Homo sapiens: one gene and its partners. The protein of the gene in region 4 purifies or fractionates together with the protein of the main gene of each other region. This does not show direct contact. Each region holds a gene or a part of one and is shown on either strand. Other genes may lie near its edges. The genes, in order: RNASEL, CNTNAP3, YTHDC2, NXPH1, CTHRC1, UBE3D and SUCLA2.

The links.
Region 1: the proteins of NXPH1 (region 4) and RNASEL purify together in Homo sapiens (affinity purification with mass spectrometry; one large-scale study listed by BioGRID and IntAct). This does not show direct contact.
Region 2: the proteins of NXPH1 (region 4) and CNTNAP3 purify together in Homo sapiens (affinity purification with mass spectrometry; one large-scale study listed by BioGRID and IntAct). This does not show direct contact.
Region 3: the proteins of NXPH1 (region 4) and YTHDC2 purify together in Homo sapiens (affinity purification with mass spectrometry; one large-scale study listed by BioGRID and IntAct). This does not show direct contact.
Region 5: the proteins of NXPH1 (region 4) and CTHRC1 purify together in Homo sapiens (affinity purification with mass spectrometry; one large-scale study listed by BioGRID and IntAct). This does not show direct contact.
Region 6: the proteins of NXPH1 (region 4) and UBE3D purify together in Homo sapiens (affinity purification with mass spectrometry; one large-scale study listed by BioGRID and IntAct). This does not show direct contact.
Region 7: the proteins of NXPH1 (region 4) and SUCLA2 purify together in Homo sapiens (affinity purification with mass spectrometry; one large-scale study listed by BioGRID and IntAct). This does not show direct contact.

What each region holds. Positions count from the first base shown.
Region 1 is NC_000001.11:182,579,257-182,582,756, reverse strand, and holds part of RNASEL (2-5A-dependent ribonuclease), read left to right. Parts: intron 1-498; coding exon 499-704; intron 705-1,399; coding exon 1,400-1,532; intron 1,533-2,749; coding exon of another isoform or gene 2,750-2,803; intron 2,804-3,500.
Region 2 is NC_000009.12:39,285,368-39,289,531, forward strand, and holds the start of CNTNAP3 (contactin-associated protein-like 3 isoform 1 precursor), read right to left. Parts: upstream 2,801-4,164; 5' UTR 2,698-2,800; coding exon 2,613-2,697; intron 1-2,612.
Region 3 is NC_000005.10:113,565,694-113,569,193, forward strand, and holds part of YTHDC2 (3'-5' RNA helicase YTHDC2), read left to right. Parts: intron 1-199; coding exon 200-326; intron 327-1,398; coding exon 1,399-1,604; intron 1,605-1,960; coding exon 1,961-2,156; intron 2,157-3,500. UniProt on the Homo sapiens protein: 3'-5' RNA helicase that plays a key role in the male and female germline by promoting transition from mitotic to meiotic divisions in stem cells.
Region 4 is NC_000007.14:8,432,136-8,436,408, forward strand, and holds the start of NXPH1 (neurexophilin-1 precursor), read left to right. Parts: upstream 1-1,473; 5' UTR 1,474-2,620; intron 2,621-3,468; 5' UTR 3,469-3,578; coding exon 3,579-3,632; intron 3,633-4,273. UniProt on the Homo sapiens protein: May be signaling molecules that resemble neuropeptides and that act by binding to alpha-neurexins and possibly other receptors.
Region 5 is NC_000008.11:103,378,038-103,381,537, forward strand, and holds part of CTHRC1 (collagen triple helix repeat-containing protein 1 isoform 1 precursor), read left to right. Parts: coding exon 1-206; intron 207-3,500. UniProt on the Homo sapiens protein: May act as a negative regulator of collagen matrix deposition.
Region 6 is NC_000006.12:83,045,342-83,048,841, forward strand, and holds part of UBE3D (E3 ubiquitin-protein ligase E3D), read right to left. Parts: intron 1-3,500. UniProt on the Homo sapiens protein: E3 ubiquitin-protein ligase which accepts ubiquitin from specific E2 ubiquitin-conjugating enzymes, and transfers it to substrates, generally promoting their degradation by the proteasome.
Region 7 is NC_000013.11:47,984,274-47,987,773, reverse strand, and holds part of SUCLA2 (succinate--CoA ligase [ADP-forming] subunit beta, mitochondrial precursor), read left to right. Parts: intron 1-3,500. UniProt on the Homo sapiens protein: ATP-specific succinyl-CoA synthetase functions in the citric acid cycle (TCA), coupling the hydrolysis of succinyl-CoA to the synthesis of ATP and thus represents the only step of substrate-level phosphorylation in the TCA.

The DNA of each region.
Region 1 (3,500 bases), on a different chromosome or scaffold from region 4:
GTGCAAAGAGTTCCTTAGGCGACCTTCTTCTTGGCCTTTCCTCCTGGCCACGGCCTAATCCCTGGGGTCATCACTTTGCCTCTCCTGGCCTGGACTGACTTTTTTATTTGCTGCGTGACATAGCCTCAGACCCAAAGTCCCAGTTTCCAGCCAGGCTGTCAGTTCTCCCTGTGTTTAAAGCATTCTCCCTTTCCTCAATTTATCTATATTCTGTCCATACATTTGAGGCCCAGCTCAAATCTCTCTTCCTCCAAGCAGTCTGCCCTAACAACTGTGACTTATATGTATCTTTTACTCTTCATAAAACTAAGTGGTATGGGCGATATACTGCCTTGAAGAGGTCTGTATGCACACATCTGTGCCTTCCCTCCCTAACAAGCCTACAAATTCCTTGAGATTCCTCCCATCATCTTGTTTGCTAATAGCGTGCACCACTCCTTCCAGGGTTACCCAAATAATTAGTAAGCATCTTTGGCTTGATTTATGGCTTTTGTGCAGGACCTTGGACGGCTGGTCCTCTATGTGGTAAAGAAGGGAAGCATCTCATTTGAGGATCTGAAAGCTCAAAGTAATGAAGAGGTGGTTCAACTTTCTCCAGATGAGGAAACTAAGGACCTCATTCATCGTCTCTTCCATCCTGGGGAACATGTGAGGGACTGTCTGAGTGACCTGCTGGGTCATCCCTTCTTTTGGACTTGGGAGAGGTAAGTAAAACTTTGTGCAGATGCCACAGGCCTCCAGGATGGAAAGGGTAAGGTGGTGCAGACAGAAGTCTGGGCTGCAAATCAGGAGACCCAGGCTTTTTTCTTAGCTTGGGATTTACTGGCTGTGTGTCCTTGGAGAGATGACTTAACCTCTCTGGAGTCTGCTTTTCATTTCTGAAGAATAAGGAGGGGAAAAAAAGAGATGCTTGCCTCTCCTATCATGCAGAATTTTTGAAGACATGGTTGTATTACTTTTATTAAAAACCAAAATCTAGCCAGGCGCGGTGGCTCACGCCTGTAATCCCAGCACTTTGGGAGGCCGAGGCGGGTGGATCATGAGGTCAGGAGTTCCAGACCAGCCTGGTCAGCATGGTGAAACCCCGTCTCTACTAAAAATACAAAAGTTAGCCGAGTGTGGTGGCAGGTGCCTGTAATGTCACCTACTTGGGAAGCTGAGGCAGGAGAATTGCTTGAACCCGGGAGGTGGAGGTTGCAGTGAGCCAAGATTGCGCTACTGCACTCCAGCTTGGGGGACAGAGCGAGACTCCATCTCAAAAAAAAAAAAAAAAAAAAAAAAAAGAAAGAAAAACCAAGAAAGCACAAAAAACACCAAAATCTAACGGTTTTCTTTTTCTGGAAAAGGAAAGGGAGGGATGGGATGATCATGATCATTTAGATCATTTAGTCATCTTCAGCCGCTATAGGACGCTTCGGAATGTGGGAAATGAATCCGACATCAAAACACGAAAATCTGAAAGTGAGATCCTCAGACTACTGCAACCTGGGCCTTCTGAACATTCCAAAAGTTTTGACAAGTGGACGACTAAGGTATGAACAATTCCTATAGTGCAGGGGTTAGTCCAGGAATAAGAATTTGTGTAATGTTTTATGTTAGTTTTTCTATCTTATTTTACACCAGTGGCAAACCAGAGGCTCAAAGAGGTGATTTTGCCTCCTGCCCTCCCATCCCTATCCCCCTAGGCTCCCTGCCGGGGTGTCTACTTCTACTTTCAGAAGCTGGCCCTCCCTCTCTCCCATTCAGACCCATGCCCCTCTGATAGACTGTTATTCAGGCTCCCCCTGGATGGCCTTATCCCAGCCCATGAGCCTTTCCCTCACTTAGCTGATAATCCTATTGCCATTATGGCACGAGCAGCTGACTAAATAGAGCTTAATCCAAGGGAAGTGCTTCACCATGAGGTGTTTCAGTCCAGGTACAGCCTGGCTGCCTCCACTGCCTGTAAACAGCCCAGCTCTCAGGATCCACACACAGACCTACATTCTGCCTGAGGAAATAGACTATGAAGGAAAGATGATCTTTCAAATTGCTCTCTTTAAGAAAAGTTCCACCTAACTTGCATTAATTATAGTGGAACTCTACAAAATTAGTCATCATCTCAATCTAGTCAGTACTGTCAGAACTTTCATTATTAATTAACAAACATCTATACAATACCAATTATGTGCTAGGCCCATGCAAGGCCTTGAGCATACAAAGCAGAATACAATGTGTCCCTGTGGGGCTGAGAAGCCCATGGAAATGATGCTGTGGGATGTGTGCTGGGCATCCCAGGGACATGTGCAAAGCACTATGGGAGAACCCATAATCTTCAGGTCTTGGAAACCAACAGCTTCCTATCCTAGACCTGACCTGGGACTCTGCTTCTCCTAATTCTTGTTTTGCTTTCCTTCCCTCACTGGTCTCTAGACTGCACATCACACTCATAATTACTGGCTTACGGTCCATTTTCCTTGCTAGACTGTAAGTTCCATGAAGGCAGAGACTACCCATTGTCTTGTCAGTTATTGTATCCCTGGCATGGAGTAGATGTGCCATGACTCTTTACTAAATGAATGTCTATCAAACTTTGGCTAAAATTTTAACTTGTAGAAACAAAGAAATTTGAAAGCAGCTATGATAGTGATAGCTAATGATTACGTAGTATCATTATGATTATGTGGCAGCCATAGTTCTTGAGACTTTACATGAGTTACCACATTTAATCTTTAGCACAACTTCTGAGACAATCATCTATATTTTGCAGATGAGCAAGCTGAGGCACAGACAAATAATTTTTCCAACTACACAGAACCAGTAAGGGGTGCACCAGGATTTGAAGCTGGGAAGGATGGCTGCAGAGGCCATGTGCTTAAGCCACACCACTACATGAAGCTGTGATGGCATCAAGTCTACCAACTCATTTACTCACTGAGGAAATTGAGGCTCAGAGACCACACTCAAATTACTCATGCTGGACAGTCAGAGATTGGCAGACCTGGAAAGAGGAACTTGTTCTTTTATTTCCCAATTTATTGGTTCTTTTCCCTAAATTCCATGGGCTTATATTGAATTTTGATAGTCTTCAGGTTTTAACTTCAAGTTTTACCTTTTAATTCCCATTTTACACTTTGTTTTTCTGTTGACTTGCCCATTTTCATGGTCACACAATTAATTTTGTCAGCATAGGTCTGGAGCCCAAGTTTTCCAGCTTGTATGACTGTATTGGTTCTTGACTTGCCCCATCCTGCCACACATACGTGCTTGGCGTTTCTCACGGGTGTTCTGCACAGAGTGCACCTGGCCAGTCTCAGCAGCATCCTCACTAGCATTGCTCTTTCATCAGTTACTCTTCCTAAGTGACCCACTGGATTCTTGACTGTTGCATCTTGATCTCGTAGCCCAAACTCTTTCTAAATATGAGAGCCATCTATGGCTCTGTATCTATGAGGGTGACAAGCACAGACAAAGAGGATGACATTACTGTGATATGAAAGGAGTTGCCCTGGGACACCTGC
Region 2 (4,164 bases), on a different chromosome or scaffold from region 4:
TTTCACTCACTGCAAGTCTATGGGCACTGAAGTTAGGAAAATATTTCCCTTCATGCAGAATCTTCCTAACAAAGCTTTCCCATGTATTTGTCGGGTCAAATAACATTCAGATAAACTGCACATAATCCCCAAAATGCCAAATGTTTAGAAAGCTTTTTTTTTTTGAGACAGAGTTTTGTGTTTTCCTCTTGTTGCCCAGGCTGGAGTGCTATGGTGGGATCTCGGCTCACTGCAACCTCCATCTCCCAGGTTCAAGCGATTCTCCTGCCTCAGCCTCCCGAGAAGCTGGGATTACAGATGCCTGCCACCACGCCCGGCTAATTTTTGTATTTTTAGTAGAGACAGGGTTTCACCATGGTGGCCAAGCTGGTCTCCAACTCCTGACCTCAGGTGATCCACCCACCTCGGCCTCCCAAAGTGCTGGGATTACAGACGCGAGCCACTGTGCCCGGCCTATAGAGCTCTTCCCATGAAGAGCCATTTCATGCCATCATCAACAGGTTGCCTTCGTGGGTGGCCAATGTGCTTCTCGAAAACCAGCTGTGAATAACGTGAGCAACTCATGGTGTCTACATGAGAAGGAAACTTTTAGATGTCCTTATTGACTTTCTTCTTGGTATTGAAGGTGGTATAATTATTACAGTTACATAGTTTTATCTGGAAGAATTACTTGATCTAAAAGGTAATTTAAAATTAGTAAAATTTATTAGATATGAGGATACTAAGTTTCATCAACGAAAGAAGACTGAAAACACCCACAGTAGTAGTATTGAAATTTCACGTGTCACTCAGCAACTCGCGAGAGTCCCGTCTGGTGCTGAGTCCATTTGGAATATCTGTCCCTGCCCTCCCCTCCTCCAAAAAGAATGTTCACTATAAACGAGAAGAGCTTAATTTCTATGGGCTTTGTAATCCTTCCACTGGATTCCAAGCAAAATAACTACCAATACAACTAATCCTGAGAATAAAAAGTAATCACAACTATGCAACAAAAACAGGAAAGGTGGTGGCAGGGTCTCACTCAGATTTCATTGCTTTGCTTTTCTCCAGGAAGGTCTTTTTGAAGCCCTGTTTATTCAATAGTAAGAGTGACCTCTAGTGACTTTTTTTGTTGTTGTATTTTGCCAGTTGATTGGTCAATTACTCTAGCATGCCTTTCTATAAGTAGCTCATTTATATGTTTGTTTAAGCCAAACGGCAGTTTCCATTACAAGACCCAAGGATTTTGATTTAAGTAACAACGTTTTATTCACAAAGCCTTCTCACAAAAGCAGATTAAAGTTGAATCTGAAACACGGTACAGCATCTGACCAAAGGAATCCGGAGCTTGTTTTTTGGAAGGGCACACCAAGTGTAGGATTAACTGAGGCGCAACTGAATCATGATGCACAGTGAGTTCATGAACCCATGTGCGTGCCCTGTGTGTGAAGAACCAACCCACCCTTGAGCCCGCGGGCAGAACAGCACTGAGCTACGGCAAACTTTTCATGACAGCTTAGGAGAACTGCTGAAAGCTACCCTTGGTTATCCTGCAATAATCTAAATTTCCAAACATGGCCACTGGCGTTTATTGGAACTTATTTCGAAAGAGATTTTGGTAGGAGAGGGCTGAGGCTGACAGCGGGGAGATGCCACTGAAAGAAAAATAAAAGTGATTTGAGAAGGAAGAGGAAGACATTTTAAAAATTCTAATCTCATGGTTTGATTAATCAAGAAAGAAAGACAACTCTCTGCTAGAGATTTACTCCAAGCCAAAAAAAAAATGTGCAATGTTGTGTAAACATTTTTATGTGTGATAAAATATGGGTACATTATGTTTTGCTCATCTGTCTGGAATATCATCATTACATTAGAATCATAGCCCATTCTAGAAATAAAGGCTTCCTAGGTGTTTACCAAATTAAGGAAAATAAAAAACAGGGAACCTGATGGCAAATTAAATAATGTAAAATATTAGCATCCAGAGAGGAATCATTTTCAAGATCACCTAAATGACTGGCTGAGTTTTGTCTTTAAGCAAGAACTTTCTACTATGAGAAACGAAGCCCCTGACAGGGGTGTTCAAGTGTTATTCCCTTAGTAGTTAGGACAGGTTATTAATTTAGTTTCACCTACAGGCGCTCTGTCCCTATACTGCATGGAAGTTAATTAGCATTTTAACTCTGAAGCTGCCAAGGTCGGCAAAACTGTAAGCTGCTAACATCTAAGTTGATGCAGTATGATGTAATGTCTGCCAGTTTTTTCCCTGTTAGACTTAATTCCTACAAAATATTACAATCCTAAAAAGGAATAAATGACAGCATTTGCACGCTAATCTCTTATTAAGATGCTTTTCAGGTTTTACAGAAACGTCCACTTTCTCAATGAATATTCAAGTACATCGATTAAAAAGTCAAAACATGCATGGTATATCTTAGACTCCCCCACAAGAGGAAAGTCTATTGTAAACAAAATCGTCTTTTTCGGGTTGCAATTCCAAATTTTTTTTAAGGTTCTTCATGTTCAGGAGCATGTTCTGCAATTCCACTTCCAAATATTACCGATAATAAAAAAAAAAAAACAAAGTTTTCCAGACAGCCTAGCGCAAGTTTTAAACCATTTGCTGTACTTACGTGGATTTCCTGCTCCCACGGGGCTCCAAGTCTGAGTGGGGAGAAGCAGCAGCACCTTGAGGACGGCCCAGGCCACTGAAGCCATGCTCACTTCAGCCAGGCGCCCTGAGACCCGGGCACGGCGACGGCCGCTCTGCGTCGCTCCTGCTCTCACTCCCGTCCCCTGCGCGGCTCTGACGCTGCTCTGCCTCCCCTGTCCAGTCTCTAGCTCTCTTCCTCACGCACCAGCAGCCTCCCTCGGCGCTGCAGACCCTCCCGCCAAGCCGCGCCCGGCCCCAGCTGCGTCTCCGAGGTCGGCCCCGCGGACTCGCGCCGCAGCTTTCTGGAGCGCTCGGGGCCGCGCGGCGCCACCCCAGGCACGGAGGCGGCAGGTTCAGGCGCGTCCCGGACACTAGGCGCGGGAGGCGGCCGGCAGCAACGCGAGTCAAGAAGCGAGCGGGAGGGACGCCCCAGCTCCGCCTGGCGCTCTCCTCCCGTTATACCGGCAGCTTCCTCCGTCCCTCTCTCCCACCGGGGCGGGGCGGCCGCGGTGCACGGACTCGCGCCAAAGACCGCGCCGTCAGCCTCCGCCTGCAGGTGGAGAACGCCAGGCTTTATCACTGCGCTGTTCACCCAACGCAGGGGCTGCACCCAGGAAAATGCTGTCCTGTTTGAGTTCAAATAGGGAAGATGGGGCAGAAATAACTCTGCGGCGTGTACTTGGGCAGACGCGCGCACACTTTGATTTTGCTAGGAATTCTGACTTGTAGAGAACCAAGCTGGGAAACCGGGCCAGGAGCAGGGAGAGGCCGGTGAGCCTGGGTTGTGCGAGTGCAAGCCTTTATTTAAAGTTTTAATATTTTGTCTATCATGGGTTTTTTTTTCTTTGCGATTACATTCAATTTTAAAACTATTTCATTCATTCAGGATTAGCGTTACTTAACAGTTGCTCCTGAGACTAGTGCGTTAGTCCCTTCACCCTAGTCCTGGCCTTGGTGGAAGTCTAAAATTTACGTTTTATTCCAGCTTTCTGTCCAAAAGAGCAACCCCTGCAAGTGTAGGATGAGGAGCTCAGTCCAGCAGCAGCTAACACTGCACTCCTTGCGCGCCTACTGTGTGCTAGAGGGAGGGGCGGAGGCAGGGGGCGGGGGGGGGGGTCTTTCTCTTTTTCTCTTCCTCTGCTTCTCAAATTCACAGTAGGGGCAAAGATTGACAAACTCACTCACATTACCACCACCGCGAGTTTCCAAAAAAGAAAAAAGAAAGAAAGATACTTTTTTAGATGGTATCTCTAAGAAATAGTGTATTAATCTTCCCTTTAGAAAGACAACTTTGAAAGGCTTTTTCATTAAAATGAATTCAAATGTAATAGATGTAAAATGTAAAATGAATTCAAATGTAATAGATGAAGAATCTTACAAAGTCATTCTTGAATTATTAATTGGGTTCACTTAAACTACTTTTGCACAAGAACTCTGTAAATAGCACGTCTTTTATTACAGAAAAAATTATAAATCTAAAGTTTTGATTGACAGATCAGTTGCCTTCAGTGAGACAGAAAGAGAGAAAATGG
Region 3 (3,500 bases), on a different chromosome or scaffold from region 4:
TAAACTCAATGGCTTTTTTAGCATTTGAGTATAAATTAATGATAAATATTATTTGATCATAAAGTCTTAGATTTTATAGAAAATTAGAATAAGGCAAATTCACGTCGAGGAATTCGTGTAGTGATTTGTAGTTACTTGTTGCCTCACTAAGAAGCGATTAGTAAATGTGTCTTGTTATGCAATTATTCTCTTTTTATAGGCCTGGCAAAAAGCACGAAGTGATGGGTGGGAGCGAGCCTTTTGTGAAAAGAATTTTCTTTCACAGGCTACTATGGAAATAATCATAGGCATGAGAACACAGTTGCTTGGTCAACTTAGAGCATCAGGTAAAGTTTTTCCCTCAAAGAGCCTATTTAAGTTACTGAGAGTACCCTGCCCATATTTCATAGTATTTCTTATGTTAACTGATGCCATCTATTATTTTTATGACATTATCATGTTGTGTATCTTATATTCATGCATGATTTGTAGACTTCGATATGTCTTCAACTTTTGCTTGTTGATGAAAAAATGCTATTGCAGGAGGTGTATTTGAGAAATCTAGGGACAGAATCTATATGCTTGTGATACTGTTGGCAATGAACAATTTGTATTGGTTGGCAGAGATCAATTTAGATCTTATAGTTATTTTCTTTTATCACCATTAATGAATACTTATTTAGTTCTGTGAAATAGAAATTTTAAAAAATTGATATGAATGCTGCTCTTCATATTTTTGGAACACAAAAACAGCTAGTAATACTTGAAGTCACCTTTTTTTTTTTTTTTTTTTGAAGAGGATGCTAGTATTGCTATTACCTTTTAGAATTGCCTTTTTGAGTAGCAAAAAAAAATTGATGTGGTAGTCAGAAGAATAGTACCAGAGCCTGGATTCATGGGTTAGCTGAAGTGCCAGAGTAATATAAGGAATGAACCAGAGGACTTAAGAGTTGACTTGAACATAAGGAAATATGAAGGACTTTTGAAACTCAAGCAAAAATTACCATATATTTACTTGACTTCATCTACAGAATTAGTATCTATCATAACCAAAATGTTGTTAATAACAGTCAGAAGAATGGTTTGGGTTTCCAGCTATGAATTTAGTTTGTTTCTGGCAGCAGATTATGAAGAACTTTATTGCAAGAATGTGGATCTAAAAAAATTTAAGCCCCAAGTGATTCTTATACTTAATCTAACCTGAGCAGATCTACACTTCCCTAGAATGTTGGTTCTGTATCTGTTTTAGGGTGGGGAGGGGTGGTTCATATTTTAAACAACTTTCCAGAGGAGATTCTATTAATTATCGTGAAATTTGAATATCACAAAATTTACATGAGTTGTACAAGTTTTTGGAAAAAATACACAAAAGTATCTTTTGCACAATAGAAAAATTGGTGTGGTTTTTTTCCCCTCTAGGTTTTGTTAGAGCACGAGGTGGTGGTGACATTCGGGACGTTAACACAAACTCTGAGAATTGGGCTGTCGTTAAAGCTGCATTGGTGGCAGGCATGTATCCTAATTTAGTCCACGTGGACAGAGAGAATCTAGTGTTGACAGGGCCAAAGGAGAAAAAAGTACGATTTCATCCTGCTTCAGTTCTCAGTCAGCCTCAATATAAAAAGGTAAAAGATTTTGAATGCTGTTGGGTTTTGAGGTGAAACTAATTTAGGTAGTTCACTATCAATGAAAAATGCTCCAAATACCTGCCTGCTTTAAGAAATTAATTAGTTATATATATATATATATATATATCATTAAATATTGGAACAAAACTTATAAATTTTAGAGTTGGAAAAGGTAACATGTTAAGTAATGAGTACTTTTGTACGAACTACATGAGCGATGACTTGTTTTAATTTTTGCTTACGTACTAATATACATCATCTATTTCATTGAGAGACTTTACATTTTAAAAGTATTTCCAATAAACTAGGTGATAAACACAATTAACAATTTTTAAAATTTATTTTCTTAATAGATTCCTCCAGCCAATGGTCAAGCTGCAGCAATTAAGGCACTGCCCACAGATTGGCTTATTTATGATGAAATGACCAGAGCCCATAGAATAGCTAATATTAGATGTTGTTCAGCAGTGACGCCTGTCACTATATTGGTATTCTGTGGACCAGCTAGATTGGCAAGTAATGCTCTTCAGGAACCTTCATCCTTTAGAGGTAAATGTATTAAGGAAATAAAAATCTATTTGAAATGAATTTTTTTTTTTTACCAAATAATGAAATTATTTTACTAAACCAAATAATGAAATTATAAAGATTTATATAGTAGCAGCTCTATTTTGATGTACTAAGACTAATTAGGAAATACTAAGGTATACTACTGTTTTTGAAATTTATTTATAAGGTAACTTGATGTTTATTTGTGCATTTTTTATTAATCTTGCTGTTGGGAAGAAATTTTTCTTTTCCACTTGAATTTAAATGATAGTTTAACGTAAATAAAGTTAATTGTAAAAGAAATAATAGCCACCCATAATCTCATTTTTCTCATGCTAACACTTTTTAATGTTATATTTTTTCTACATGTTTACATATTTTAAATTATTTCACCCAAACTGTTATTTTATATTTTGTTATTTTCATTACAGAGATATCAAAAATATTTTTAGTATTTTATATTAATGACTGCAAAATAGTATATCACATTGAAGTGGCATAATGCATTTTTTTCCTTCAACTTTTATTTTAAGTTCAGGGGTACATGTGCAAGATGTGCAGTTTTGTTGCATAGGTAAAGGTGTGCCATGGTGGTTTGCTGCACAGATCATGACATCATGTATCTATCAAGCCCAGTGTCCATTAGCTATTCTTCCTGATGTTCTCCCTACCCTCTACCACACACCCCCAGTAGGCCCCAGTGTGTGTTGTTCCCCTGTCTGTGTCCATGTGTTCTCATCATTCAGCTCCCACTTATAAGTGAGAACATGCGGTGTTTGGTTTTCCATTCCTGCATTAGTTTGCTGAGGATAATGGCTTCCAACTTCAGCCATGTCCCTGCAAAGGACATGATCTAATTCCTTTTTATGGCTGCATAGTATCCCATGGTGTATATGTACCATATTTTCTTTATCTAGCCTACCATTGATGGGCATTTGGGTTGATTCCATGTCTTTACTATTGTGAATAATGCTGCACTGAACATACAAATGTACTTATCTTTATAATAGAATGATTTATATTCCTTTGGGTATTTACCCAGAAATGGTATTTCTGCCTCCAGGTCTTTGAAGAATCACCATGCTGTCTCCCATGGTGGTTGAATTAATTTACACTAGTGTAATTTAATTACACAGTAGTGTAAAAGTGTTCCTTTTTCTCTACAACCTCACCAGCATGTTGTTTTTTGACTTTTTAATAATAGCAATTCTGATCTCATTGTGGTTTTGAATTGCATTCCAGTAATGATCAGTGACGTTGAGCTTTTTTTCATATGTTTGTTGGCCACATGTACATCTTTTGAAAAGTGTCTGTTCGTGTCCTTTGCCCACTTTTTAATGGGTT
Region 4 (4,273 bases):
AGTTCAGCTCTGACAGCATTGTAGCTGGGAATCCAGATAGAGGCAGGCAACATTTGCTCCAGCTCTACACTCCAGTCTGGGAGGCCTGGGAGCTCCTGTACAAATAGGAATCAATTTTAGGATAGCCTTATGAATCCTAGAGGATGGAATTAGACAAAGCTTTTTTTGCCCCTGCTTTGACCATTTGGCCTCAGATACGGGTGCCCCAATACTTTAATTTTTCTTCTTTAAAGTTTAAAGTTTTTAAGAAAATGAAATAGCTGGTAAGTGAAAATAGTCAAGAAAACATTGTAATTATGCTATATGTACATGTGCGTTTTTTCTGAAGTGGATTTTCAGAGACACAGTTAGAAGGTGTGCTTCACTGCTTTATTCTGCATATGCCCCAATGAATTCCAGGAGGTCACAGCAGCAGAGTACAACTTTTAAGATTAGAAGAGCTTGCTCTTTAAAGAGTTATTTTTAGCTGGAAGGGAGAGTGTAGACCTCAAAGTGCTGGTAGGTATGTTCTACAGTGGGGATCTAATTTGGAGGTCTTTGGAGATCTGATTCCAGGGGAAGGTCTCAGTGGGGCTCCTCTTGCCTCTGCTGCAGGACTGGGTGGCTCTGCTGATTGTCACTGCCTTGTTTGAGGGGTGGTCTCCATCATCCAGGGGAATTCAGCCTGGGACCTATTGTCTAGAGTGTACATTGTATCTAGGCCCAGACCTGCCAGAGTGTCCACAGCCACACTTGAGGAAAGGACATTCCAGACTCATTAAATATCACAATTCGATTTTGATGTCACTAACTCAGGTTCCTGAGATAAATTTCCATACAATTCCTACAGATTGATATGGATATGTGCATCACCCCAGGAGAGGCTCTGGTGAAGGGCAGGCTTGGAGATGCAATGGGCAAGGTTGGGGAAGAGATACCCTCTTCCGGGTTCCGATTTGTGCCCTGAATTTGGGCAAGCTCAAGGAGCACTGGCAACCCCACCAGCACCAGAAGAAGCTGGTCCTGGCTGTCTCCCGAGACTGGTGAAACTGCTCTGGTGGTGGTGCACTGGAAGGGTGGAGGAAAAAAAACAAAAAACAAAACAGGGTTTGAGGGGGAATGGCAGGGACACGGTAGAGGCACAGAGATACAGAGACCTAGAGTCAGAAATCCTGAGTGAGACACACAGAAAGGCAGAAAAAGGCAGAAAGATGCTGAGGGACAGAGACGCAGACCACAAGAATGACAGAAGAAGGAGACAGAGAGAGAGAGGGAGTGAGAAAGATACTGAGAAATAGGGACAGTAAGGGAGAGACTGAGAAAGACAGAGACAGCCAGAGTCGGAGCACAGAGGCCGAGTCTGGGAGACGCTGGTTGAGTGGGAGGTGTCAGTAGCGAGGGAGGTGGTGACGGCTCGAAGCATCCCCCGTCCTCCTCCTCCCCCTTCACGCTCAGCCCAGCCGGCGGCGAGGAGTCCAGAGGCCAAGGTCGCCCAGTCCTCTCGGCTGTCTCGAGCTGAATGGCTGGCAGTCTGCGGCTCCCCCGCCTCCGGCCCGGCAGCCACAGGTCGGAGGCGCCCGGCGTCGGCGCTCGAGGCCGGCAGGGGCGCCCTGCACCCTCCCGCGCCCTTCCCCGCCCTACGCGACTCCCGGCTGCTCTTCCCGCCACTCCCCTGGGCTTTGCGATCTTCCCTACGCCCCCCGGGAAGGGGGCGCTGCGGCCACCGAAGACACCGCGGGAGCCACTTGTCCCTGTGGGCCCAGCCCGCGAGAGCCTGAGAGCCGGATCTGTTTACACAGGGTACTAATTAGTCTTTGAGGAATCATTCACCCACGTGCCAAAGTAATTGTCCGTGTCAGGAAGGTAGGCGTGCCAAGCCGCGGCTCTGCGGAGAAACCACGACCACCGCGGCCGCCGGAAACCCAAAGCGCTCCAGAGCGTCCCCGGGTGGCCGGGCAGCACCAGGGACAGCGCCCGGGACTCCACTGGGGACCGGCTCCTGGGCTTCCCAGCGTCGCGGGTAGAGGTACAGCTGCTCCGTGTGCCGCAGGCTCCAGATTCTCGCCACCCCACCCCTCCCTCAGAAACTCGGACTGCTCTCGTCTGCCGTGTGGTTCTCTTTTCTTCCGAAAGGCCAGTGTCTTATCTCTCCACTTCAAGTCCAGAGGACTTGCTCAGTCTCCTCCCCTTAAGTCATTTCCACCATCCTCAGGCAGCTGTGGGAAGCCGAGAGTCCTGGACTGTTCGTCCGGGTGCCAGCGCTGGCAGTCCCAGTCCGTCCGGTGCAGCAGCCCGGCGCATTCCCCTCTCTCCCTCCCTCTTGCTCTCCCTCCCTTTCTGTCTTCCTCTCTTTCCTCCTCTACTGCTCCCTCCCTCTCTTGCCTCTTAAGTTTCCTGCACCGTGAATCCAACTGTGCCAAGCCTTGGCTCCCGCGAACCAATCCTGAGCGCGACCCGGGCACTGGGACGGCGACTCCGCCAAAGCTGGACGAGGCAGCCGGACCCGTCTGCGCTCGAGCATGGAGACGGAGCGCCTGGGAGGGCACGTCCGGGGCGCTGGAGACGCCAGGCCCGAGTAGCTTCTCCATGGAGCCTGCCCAGAGCGGTCCCTTCTCGCAGGATTCGCCCCAAGTCCTGTGCGGTACGTACCCTTTGCCTCCGCTGTTCCCGGAGGGTACACCTGGGAGCGGGGTGGTGGGCACGAGGAAGGGACGGCAGGGAGGGGCGCTGGTTAGGAAAGAGAACAAGCCTGGCAGGTGACCCTCACAGCTCGGAGGAGGCTTCTTCTCTAGAAGTTAGCGACCGGCTGTACCCTTTGGCTCGAAAAAAGTAGTGCTAGAGATGTGACTGTGAGCATTCGTGGGTATCTCTGTGTGCGCCAGGGGTTCGAATGGGTAAACTGATCCCTGCTTTCCTGTATGCAAATTGCATTCTCTTTCCCCACCCCCACTTCACCGAACGTGTTGAGGTACCTAGCACCTAATCGCGGTCAGTTCTACCTACCTCTTCCTCTCACCGCGCCCCCCTCGCTCAATCTCTCTCTCTCCCTTTATCTTTCCCCTCTATCTCTCTCTGCTGGTGTGTACGTGTGTGAGCACTGCCAGGGCTGGCGAAGAACCAGCCGCCGCCTTTAGTCCGAGCCGCCGGGCCACCCAACACAAGGGCAGGTCTCGCTGCCGGAGAAGCCTGGGCTCCGAACCAGCCTGCACGCGGCTCAGTGTGCTCCGCCGCCTGGGAACTCGCACCCGAGGAGCGCAGGGGGCAAGGAGCCCCTCACCCTCCCTCTCGTCCGCCCGCCCGCCTCCCCAGCTGCGGACCGCGCGCTTGCTGGTCTCAGGCGCTGGATTTACTCGCTTTTCAATTTTTCGTACCCTCCCTCCCTTTTTTTTTTGGTCCCCCACTCCCCGCTACGACCCCCTTTCCCCGCTTGATTGTCAAGCCTAACCTTGCCCGCGTAGTCATGGGATGTCTAATTTTATTTGCATCTAGGCTGCTGAGAGCGCTCCTTGCTCTGTAAAGTGGATGTCAGGTGGATCTATGTTTCTGAAGGAACAAAGACTCAAAGAAGGCACCGCCAAGGAAGTTTGAGACGCGGGAGAATGCAGGCTGCGTGCTGGTACGTGCTTTTCCTCCTGCAGCCCACCGTCTACTTGGTAAGTCTTGGAAGGTTCGGGGCTTTCGCATTTTTACCCCGGCCGGGAGGCAAGGAAACTGGGGACACGCGGGAGAAGGGTTACGCCGCCAGTTCAGTGAGAGCAGCTTCCTAGCAGCTGTGTTGGAGCAACTTTGGCAAGCTGGTCTCTGGATTCCTGCGGATTTTCCGGGGTTCCCACCCCATTTTCTGCTCCAATCCCCCAGTCTCCTGCGCGTGATTCTTGAAAGGGGCTAGGGCGCCCCAGACACCCTAAACCCAAGGAGGTAGTGAGATGGGGTGCTTTATGTGATAGAGGGCCAACGAGAAGAAGTGGAAGGCAGGAACTCTCAGTAGCTCATGCACAGAGTTTAAACGAAGGGAAGTGGGGGTGTAGTTGGGTGGTGGAAAGAACAAATCTGCCCAGGTCTGTGAGTTTAAAAGTGAATCTACCCACCCACTTCCCCGATTTGGAGATGAGACACATAAAGAAGCGCAGTTAACTTTCTTTGACTTGTAAGGGTTCCGACAGGATAAGTTTAACTATCAGGGGTACTGCAAGCAATCGGAGTTAGGACAGAGATACTCCAGCAAACATGTCCACCTTCCTCTCGTCTCGACCTCCCCTTTTCATCAAATAACTAAATCCCATCTCCAGTGACT
Region 5 (3,500 bases), on a different chromosome or scaffold from region 4:
TACAAAGATGCGTTCAAATAGTGCTCTAAGAGTTTTGTTCAGTGGCTCACTTCGGCTAAAATGCAGAAATGCATGCTGTCAGCGTTGGTATTTCACATTCAATGGAGCTGAATGTTCAGGACCTCTTCCCATTGAAGCTATAATTTATTTGGACCAAGGAAGCCCTGAAATGAATTCAACAATTAATATTCATCGCACTTCTTCTGGTATGTAAAATTGTGACATTGCAAGATGTGCCTCAGATCTAAGTAAGATTAGTTTTGAGTCCCACTATCATGTTGGTTCACTAGCCTACTGTAAAGGGACCTCTAGCAAGTTTTCAATGCATGATTCTCCACCCTGGGTTGTACTTCTGCATTACCTCTCGATCTTTTAAAAATACATAGATGCCTGGGCCCTATCTCTGATGAACTAACGCAGAATCTCTAGCAGTAAGACCACAGCTTCTGTGTTTTTTAAAAGATCCCCTGGTGATTCAGATGTGCCCCAGGCTTGAAAATCAGTGAGTTAAATGACATGGCAAAATAGCCAATAATGCCATAGAGCAGTGGTCTTTCAACCTTGGCTACATATTGGGCTCACTGTAGGAACTCTGGGAACTTTAAAAAGAAATGCCTATCCCACCCTTCCAGGGAGTCAGATTTAACAGGTCTGGGTGCAGACTTGGCAATGGGACTTTCGAAGTATCTCTTGGTAGGCTGGGCGTGGTAGCTCACACCTGTAATCCCAGCACTTTGGGAGGCTGAGACGGGCAATCACTTGAGCCTAGCAGTTTGAGACAAACCTGGGCAAGAGGGCGAAACCCCATCTCTACAAAAAAAATACCAAAAAATTAGTCCCAACTACTATGGAGGCTGAGGTGGGAGGATGGCTTCAGCCCAGGAGGCAGAGGTTGCAGTGAGCTGAGGCTGCCCCACTGCACTCCATCCTGAGTGATGACAGAGTGAGATGCAGTCTCAAAAAAAAAAAATCTCCTGGTCATTCTAATGTTCAGCCAAAATTTAGAACCACTGGCTCAGACTAATAAGGAGACTGATTTTTCTGCCTTATCCTTTAAAAGGGTGGATACTGTCTGCTGAATTTGTAAAAGACAAAATTTTTATACTGTTTCTGTATTCTGTTTCCACCTAGTATGAGGAAAAGACATTCAGTGGTCACTTAAACTGTCAGAAAAATATCATTGGGTTGTTTTATGTACTTATGTATTTGTTTATTTATTTATTTATTTTAGAGACAGGGTCTTGCTCTGTTGCTCAGCCTGGAGTACACTGGCAGGATCACAGCTCACTGCAACTTTGAACACTTGGCCTCAAGTGATCCTCCTGCTCAGCTTCCCAAAGTGCCATGATTACAGGCATGAGCCACCATGCCTGGCCTGTTTGTTCTATTTTAAGATTCATTAAAGAAAGTTTAGAAAATACCAGAAAATAGAAGAGTTAAAAAAAAAAAAAACTATTAATCTCATCCTCCAGAGACACCACTATCAATATTTTGTTGTCAGCCATTTTGGTTTCTTGAGTTGCAGTGGATGGCACACCATGGTAGCATCAGAAAGTGTACATACTGTTATATTCATATGCCTTTTCATAGAAGAAAAATAAGAAACTATACATATGGTTAGCATCATTTCCTTGATTTCCTGAAGAGATTTTTCACTAATCTTATAATTAAAAATGGTTGAGGGGAGGGAGGAGATAATCTCACTCTTCCCTTCCCTCAAAATAACATTTCAGCATTCTTTAGGGCTCCAAGTCAGGTACTGAACCCCAAAACCAATTTATTCCTAAGCAATCAAGGGCATCCCCTCCACATTTTCCCTCAGATCCCCACAATATCCTTGAAACATAAAGAAGAGATTTTAACCCCCTCTCTTTGCATATTGAGAAACCCAGGGAAATACAGCGTCTTACACGGGACAGTAGAATCAGCGTTCAGGAGAGCAGAAACCAACGCCCTGTTCTCTTGGCTCCCAGTTCTCTTTGTAATCAGATTAAAAACCCTCTTCACTAAGTACTTAGATACATGTGCTGGAAAGGAAGAAGTGCTTCCCATCTAAGAAATAGTCTTTAAAATAAGAAGAATCTAGATATTAAAAATAAAATTTGATTAGGAAGTGATATGTTCAGACAGTCGTTGATATAAGCAACTTACATTCTATTCTGTTATCTTTAAGGTGTGTGTTAATATTTTGCTAATGTAAGCCCTTAGGCCCAGGAACTGTGTCATATACACGCATATACTTTATAAATAATTTAACACAGCATTTCCCAACCATTGTGTGCAAACTCATTTGGTGTGATCAGTTGGGTGGAGTGTCACAAGTAATTTGTTATTAATAACAGTTTTTGTATTATTGTGGATTAAAAGTTACCTCTGTAACAGAATCACTTTTTCTGACATACTGATAGTCTCTCTTAAGGGAAAGGAAAGGGGTGCACTTATAGTTAGCATATCAGAGGATGGCTTAAAGCCTTGATATGCCCATGGGAGTTTGACAAATGGTTGTCATCTGTTACATGGTCTAGGAGGAAAACAGGTTGAGAACTCCCAATCCAACATATCGTTTTTACTTAACAAGCTATCATACTACATTATCACAGCAAAAATGTTCATTCAACATTATTTCATCTGCTAAAGACCATGAAGTGACCATTTGACTGTCCTCAGATGAGGCTGATGCAAGACCCAAGCTTGTCTGACGTCCTTAGGCCGTAGGGGGAAGTGAACAAGTTTCTAGGCCATGGCTGTCAAGACCCTGGGAAAACATGAGCATTTGTAGGCATTTTCACTTGGCATGGTACTAAGAATACCAGATTAAATGGGATTGTGGGCCTACTATTTAGTTCCCCCAACTTGGGAAGGGGACTGAACCAGAGACAGGTCCCTGGATTCTGAGAGACTTGCTCTGGATTTACTCCTGTGATAGTTTATGTAAGCAGATTGCTTCAGACCTACATCTCTGGGTCTCAGCAGGAATGCACTAACCTCAATCAAATAGGAAGCCTAACCAGTCACATAAAGTCATCCACTATATCAGGATTCATTTTCTTTTTTTTCTTTAGTATTATTATTATTATACTTTAAGTTCTAGGGTACATGTGCATAACGTGCAGGTTTGTTACTTATGTATACATGTGCCATGTTTGTTTGCTGCACCCATTAACTCGCCATTTACATTAGGTATTTCTCCTAATGCTATCCCTCCCCCAGCCCCCCACCCCACAACAGGCCCGGGGTGTGATGTTCCCCGCCCTGTGTCCAAGTGTTCTCATTGTTCAATTCCCACTTATGAGTGAGCAAACTATCACAAGGACAGAAAACCAGGATTCATTTTCTTGAATCTGCCAACCTACAGTTTCTTCTCCAGCTTTACACATACATCAAAGGTACCATGTCTTTTTGCCTGCTAAAATGACTGAGGGATTTTTTTTTTTTAATTTAAGAGAAGACTTTGGTAAGATGGAATGCAACTTGTATTGTTAGTAGGTGAAAGTCCAGAG
Region 6 (3,500 bases), on a different chromosome or scaffold from region 4:
AAGTATTTTCAATGCTGCTTTAACTGGCAACTCTTAAATTACTGGTGAGATTCATCTAGTTTTGCTACTTATAGTCTACTGTGTTTCTTCTGTGAATTGTGATTAGTGACTATTTTCCAGGGTGGTATTATTATGTTCTTATTAATTTGTAAAAATGTGTTCTATATTAAGAGTATTAGCCTCATGCTTATTAATCTGTTACAAATTTTTTTGGTGTTACTGCCTTTTATTTTGGTTTACGTGTCTTAATGGTCAGATCACCTAACAACTTTCTTCTATAATTTCTTCTATTACTATATTTTAGTAAACTTTTCATTTTGGAATAACTTTAGATTTACAGAAAACTTACAAAGGTAGTGTATTAGTTCCCATATACACTTCACCCAGATGGACCTAAACTTACTATTTTATGGTACCATGGTAGATTTGTCAAAACTACACACTTTGAATTCCACCTGTTTTTCCACTAATATCCTTTTTTTCTGTTCCAAGATCTAATTTATGATAATACTTTGCATTTAGTCATCATGTCTCCCTAGTCTCGTCTGGTCTATAACAGTTTCTCAATATTTCCTTATTTTTCAGACACTTGAGATTTTTGCAAAGATCAGGTATTTTACAGAATATTCTTCAATCTGAGTTAGTCTAATATTGTCTCAAGATTAGGCTGGTGGTATGGATTTGGGGAAAGAATCTCACAGAAGTGAAATGTACCTTTCTCATCACATCAAATCAGAGAATATATCATATCAACACAACTTAGTGATGCTAATCTTGATAACTTCGTTAAGGTGATATATGCTAAGTTCCTCCTTCTAACAAAACACAAATACTAGTAAATTAATGTACATTCAGATGTTATAAGTTAAAACATTTAAAATGTGAATGCTACTTTTTTTTTTTAACAATTCCCCCATGTTAACCATTTTCCTTTGATTTCCCCAATCAACTGAGTTGCATAAAAGGGCAATTACAGTTCAGAAGAGGGTACACAATTTATAACTGCAGAGGACAAAGCTAGAAACAAGAAAGGCTGATTTTAGTTTAACATAAGGAAGAACTTTTCCTTTGAAATTAGTATATGCTGCACCATTGGTATCATCAAAGTGCTGAGCCTGTTAAGCATACTGAGAAGTGATTCTTTCAACGTACATTTCCTATAAGTCTACTATGAATAAGGCATTCTACTGGCACAAAATATGAACACATACAGTCCGTCTCTCTTAAGGTACTCATGTTCTAGTAAGAAATATAGACCTACAAACAAATAACAAAAGCACATGTTATAAATGCTGGTAACAGAGTAACGGTTCTAAATTCTTGCAGTTGGCGGGGGGGGTGGGCGGTGGCACCGGGGGAGCAGTACAGATCCCTTTGAATATTTAAGAAAAGTGTTAGCCTCTTTCCTCAAATGTACATTTCTACAAGCACACAAAATCTGCATATTACTTTAGGGGATTCATGGATCCCCAAGACCAATCCATGAATTCAAGGCAATAAACACAAACTGCTACAAGAATAGATTGTACACAGACTTCAGAGAAGAGGTAACATCTGAGCTGGCCTTTGAAAGATAAATAGTAGTTCTCCAGGCAGTGAAAGGAATTAAGGGCATCATGGAAGAGACAATATGAAGGTAGATGCCATATATGTTTACCTTGCCACTGTATTTCTACTGTCTTACATTGCTCCTAACGTATATCATGAGCTCTTAAATATTTGTTGAAGAAATGAACTAGCGTATTTTGATAACTATAATGTGTGAAGCCCCTGGTTGCGTCTGTTGCACACTGGAATTAAGGGGTTAAAAACCTTTTCCCTTGCTGCTTGAGAATCTGATCTTTGGTTTAGCCACCTAGCTCTGTTACCCTGGAAACCAGGTAAGAGCTTAGGCATCCACAATATTGCTAGGCAACACTGCTTACGGTAAAAATGATCCTTGGTTGGTAAACTGCATCTGAACCAGGAAGAAATATGAATGAGCTGTAAATGTCTGATAGGACACTTTGGCCTTCCCTGAATGCAGTTTCTTCTTGGGAACCCTACAAACTATATCAAGAATTGTTACAAGAGATACTGGCTGCTTAAGGCAGGAGGCTTCTTCTGAGCCAGGGCAGCTCCCGTACCTCCCTGATGTGGAGCTTAGGCTTTGTACCTGGAACTACGTCGTGTGGGGAGACAACAGTCCCCAGAAAGGTATGTGAGCTGTCATTTGTGCAAACATGCAGAGCCCCTGCTGAGAGGAATTCTTGATGCTGCCCTGCTGGCAAGCTGGCAAGGAATGTGGCCTGTGGTAGCCTTGTGAGTCCACATGTTTAGTTAACTTAAAAAGACCCTTGGTGGCCACTAAACACACCTTATTTCATTTAATGCTCGCAACAACTTTGAGAGACAGGAAATACCATTTTCCTGTACAGAGGAGGAAAGTGAGGCTCAGAAATGTTCAATAATCTGCATTAAGCCGGGCTCGGTGGCTCATGCCTGTAATCCCAGCACTTTGGGAGGCCCAGGCGGGCGGATTACGAGGTCAGGAGATCAAGACCATCCTGGCTAACACGGTGAAACCCCGTCTCTACTAAAAATACAAAAAATTAGCCGGGAGTGCTGGCGGGCACCTGTAGTCCCAGCTACTCCGGAGGCTGAGGCAGGAGAATGGCCTGAACCCGGGAGGCGGAGCTTGCAGTGAGCCGAGATCGCGCCACTGCACTCCAGCCTGGGCAACAGGGAGACTCCAGCTCAAAAAAAAAAAAAAAAAAAAAAAAAATCTGCATTAAGTTCACAGAATCAGAAGTGATCAGTAACGGCAGGTCCTTAGAATATATTCCTTCCCTGGCAATGCAGAACAGCCATAGAGGAGGAGACTTGGGCAGGTAGGATGGTGGCAAACTGTGTGGGGTGTTCCAGGCCACGCTAAGGGGTAGGGACTTGGTACCTCAGGTGGGTAGGAAGCATTACAGAATTTTAAACAGAATAACAGGTCAGATTTGAATTTTACCAAGAAGAACCAGCAGAAGAAGAGGGCAAATAAATTGCCTGTTTAGAGTGGGAGGGAGTTAGGCCTAAATAGGTTCCTGGACTTTCTCCATCATTAAGATCTTTTGTCTCCTGACATACTGCATGTAGTGCCAATAAACAAACCCTCAATACAGTGCAAAAGACAACAATGTCAAAACCCCCTACATGATCAGGGAAATAAAATTGCACCAAGATTTACAGAGATCTGGGAGACAACTCACATTAACACAAAATATGATATTTTAAACTTAATGTGACCATATATCATGTGAATAAAAGCTATAATATGTCCTAGAACCATCTACATAAGACAGCAGGAGCAAGAAAGTGCCTAATCTGCAAGTCATTGCAAAGATAAAAGAGTTTTTAAAGCAGAAAAAATTTTTTTGATGTTTTGAAGAAAACATAAAACATTTAAGAACAAAAGATTTTAATCATTGCTTTACTGAAAGCATATTTATCTAAAACCCTGAAAAATATACTTT
Region 7 (3,500 bases), on a different chromosome or scaffold from region 4:
TTGTGTAGAATTTAGAGTAACAAAAATTTTAAGAGTCATGAAAATAATTTTCTTATGTAGAACAACTTTTTTAAAAATAACAACTTTCTGTATTGTGATTTTTCTTATTTACAATTAAATCTATTAATGTTTGAATGATATGTCTTTTGCAACTTTTAATTTTTATAAGGAAGTATTTCTAAAGATATAACACTAGATGGTAGTAAAAATCCACTCAGAATATAAAATTAAGAAGCATTGTTTTATTCTTAAGTGATATTCTATGTGATAGAATTTAGTTTGTAAGTTATTTTAAAAATCCCATGACAGTAACCTCATATATTACCCAAAATTTACATAAATTATATTTTTACACATTCACTTATTTTCACTACATTTTATTTTTCTTTTCATTGACATTATATATCGGCATCTGTCATTTTGTTAGTTATGTTTTTACTTTTTGTTACAGTAGCCAGAAACAAGGTATAAATACCTGGATGAATTGAGATAGGAGTTCTATCCATAGTAATTCATCTTTATTGTAGTAAAGGTAGGATACTGAATATGTATTATTAAAGATATGTTTAAGGCATTTGGGAAAAGGATCAAATTTGAGTTCATCTTATGAACTTGAATTTCCTGACAACTATTTAGGTCTTGTTGAGGATAAAATGTTTTTATTTTAATACTTGCTTACTAATAATACGTGGTTATAATTCAGGTTAAAAATACTGTAGTACCAGTAAAACTGTTTGACCGAAGACATTATAAATTCTTTGATATTATCACATTAGACCAATGTAGAGTTGGTTGGTGTTACTTTTTGGGGTATAGCCATGTTTTTGGGAATCCCTGTGGACAGATCTCTGTTGAACAACAAAAATTAGTCACCTATTTAAACTACAAAGAGCACTTGTGATTGAGTTAATGTCCCATGCATGGGAATTAACTAATCATTAGAAATTGCTTTTGTTAAAATGGGGAAAGGATTTCCTATTTAATAAATGGTGCTGGGAGAACAGGCTAGCCATGCAGAAAATTGAAACTGAACCCCTTCCCTACACCATATACAAAAGTTAACTCAAGATGGATTAAAGACTTAAATGTAAAACTCAAAACTATAAAAACTCTAGAAGGAAATCTAGGTAATACCATTCATTCAGGACATAGGCGCGGGCAAAGATTCATGATGAAAACGCCAAAAGCAATTGCAACAAAAGCAAAAATTGACAAATGGGATCTAATTAAGCTAAAGAGCTTCTGCACAGCAAAGGAAACTATCATCATAGTGAACACACAACCTGCAGAATGGGAGTAGATTTTTGCAATCTATCCTTCCGACAAAGGTCTAATATCCAAAGTTTATGAGAAACTTAAAACAAATTTTCAAGAAAAAAAGCAAACAACCCCATTAAAAAGGGGGCAAAGTACATGAACAGACACTTCTCAAAAGAAGACACAGGCTGGGTGTGGTGGCTCACGCCTGTAATCCCAGCACTTTGGGAGGCCGAGGTGGACGAATTACCTGAGGTGAGGAGTTTGAGACCAGCATGGCCAACAAGGTGAAACCCTGTCTCTACTAAAAATAAAAAAATTAGTTGGGCATGGTGGTGAGTTCCTGTAATCCCAGCTACTTGGGAGGCTGAGGCAGGAGAATGGCTTGAATCTGGGAGGTGGAGGTTGCAGTGAGCCGAGGTTGTGCTACTGCACTCCCGTCTGGGCGACAGAGTAAGAATCCGTTTCAAAAAAAAAAAAAAAAAAACTATACATATGGCCAACACACATGTGATTAAAAAGCTCATCACTGATCTTTAGAGAAAAGCAAATCAAAACCACAATGAGATACCATCTCATGCCACTCAGGTGGCTATCATTAAAAAGTCAAAAAACAACAGATGCTGGTGAGGTTTTGCAGAAAAAGGAATGCCTTTACAGTGTTGACGGGAGTGTAAATTAGTTCAACCATTGTGGAAGACAGTGTGGCAATTCCTCAAAGACCTAGAGGCAGAAATACTATTTGACCCAGCAATCCCACTACTGGGTATATACCCAAAAGAATATAAATCATTCTGTTATAAAGATACATGCATCGGTATGTTCACTGCAGCACTGTTCACAATAGCAAAGACATGGAATCAACCTAAACATCCACCGATGATAGACTGGATAAGAAAATGTGGTACATATACACCATGGAATACTCTGCAGCCATAAAAAAGGAATGAGATTATGTCCTTTGCAGGGATATGGATGGAGTTGGAAGCCATTATCCTCAGCAAACTAATGCAGGAGCAGAAAACCAAACACCGTGTGTTTTCACTTAAAAGTGGGAACTGAATGATGAGAACACATGGACACAAGGTGGGGATCAACACACACTGGGGCCTGTCGGGGTGGGGGTGGAGGGAGGGAGAGCATCAGAAAGAATAGCTAGTGAATGTTGGGCTTAATACCTGGGTGATGGGATGATCTGTACAGCACACCACCATGGCACATGTTTACCTATGTAACAAACCTACACATCCTGGACATGTACACCTCAACTTAAAAGTTGAAGAGAAAAAAAAAGAATAAGCAAAGCAAAACTAAAACAAAACAGAAAACAATTACTTCTATTACTGACTTGTTTTTAGGAGATGTATCATAGGTTCTACTGGTCTTTAGTACCTTTCACATCCTGATTCCGGGAGGTAACTTCTATGGGGTTGGCTTGCCAGAAAGTGAATTCAAGTACCTACTCTCTGTGTGATACCTTTGTTAAATTAGATTTCTTAACATTTGCCTAGTGCCTGTTGGGTACTTTTGGTCTGAGTCAAGTCTATTTAATAAATCACATTTACTACTTTTATTTTTCTGGTAAAACAACTGCAGTCTTCTGCAAATGAGTGGGACATTTTCCTGTGTCAATTTTTGACTTTACCTGAAATAGTTATAAAATGTGCTTAAGAATTCTAATTTTACTTCGTGTGATTTTTTTTAAATACACATCTTTATTTTTTATTTTTATTTTTAATTTTTTTGAGAGTCTTGCTCTGTCGCCCAGGCTGGAGTGCAGTGGTGCCATCTCTGCTCACTGCAACCTCCGCCTCCCAAGTTCAAGTGATTCCCCTGCCTCAGCCTTCCAAGTAGCTGGGATTACAGGTGCATTCCACGATGCCCTGCTACAGATCTTTATTATATCATGTGGCTGCTTTCTCATTTAAGCCTTTTACATTTAAGCCTATTTTAAGGCAAATTTAAAAAAATACCAACAAGAGAAGAAGAACTTAGGTTAAGAAAGTGAAAAGTAGGGCTGGGCGTGGTGGCTGACACCTGTAATCCCGACACTTTGGGAGGCTGAGGCGGGCGGATCATGAGGTCAGGAGATCGAGACCATCCTGGCTAACACAGTGAAACACTGTCTCTACTAAAAATACAAAAAAAACAAAAAATTAGCTGGGCGTGGTGGGGGGTGCCTGTAGTCCCAGCTACTCGGGAGGCTGAGGCAGGAGAATGGCATGAACTCAGGAGACGGAGCT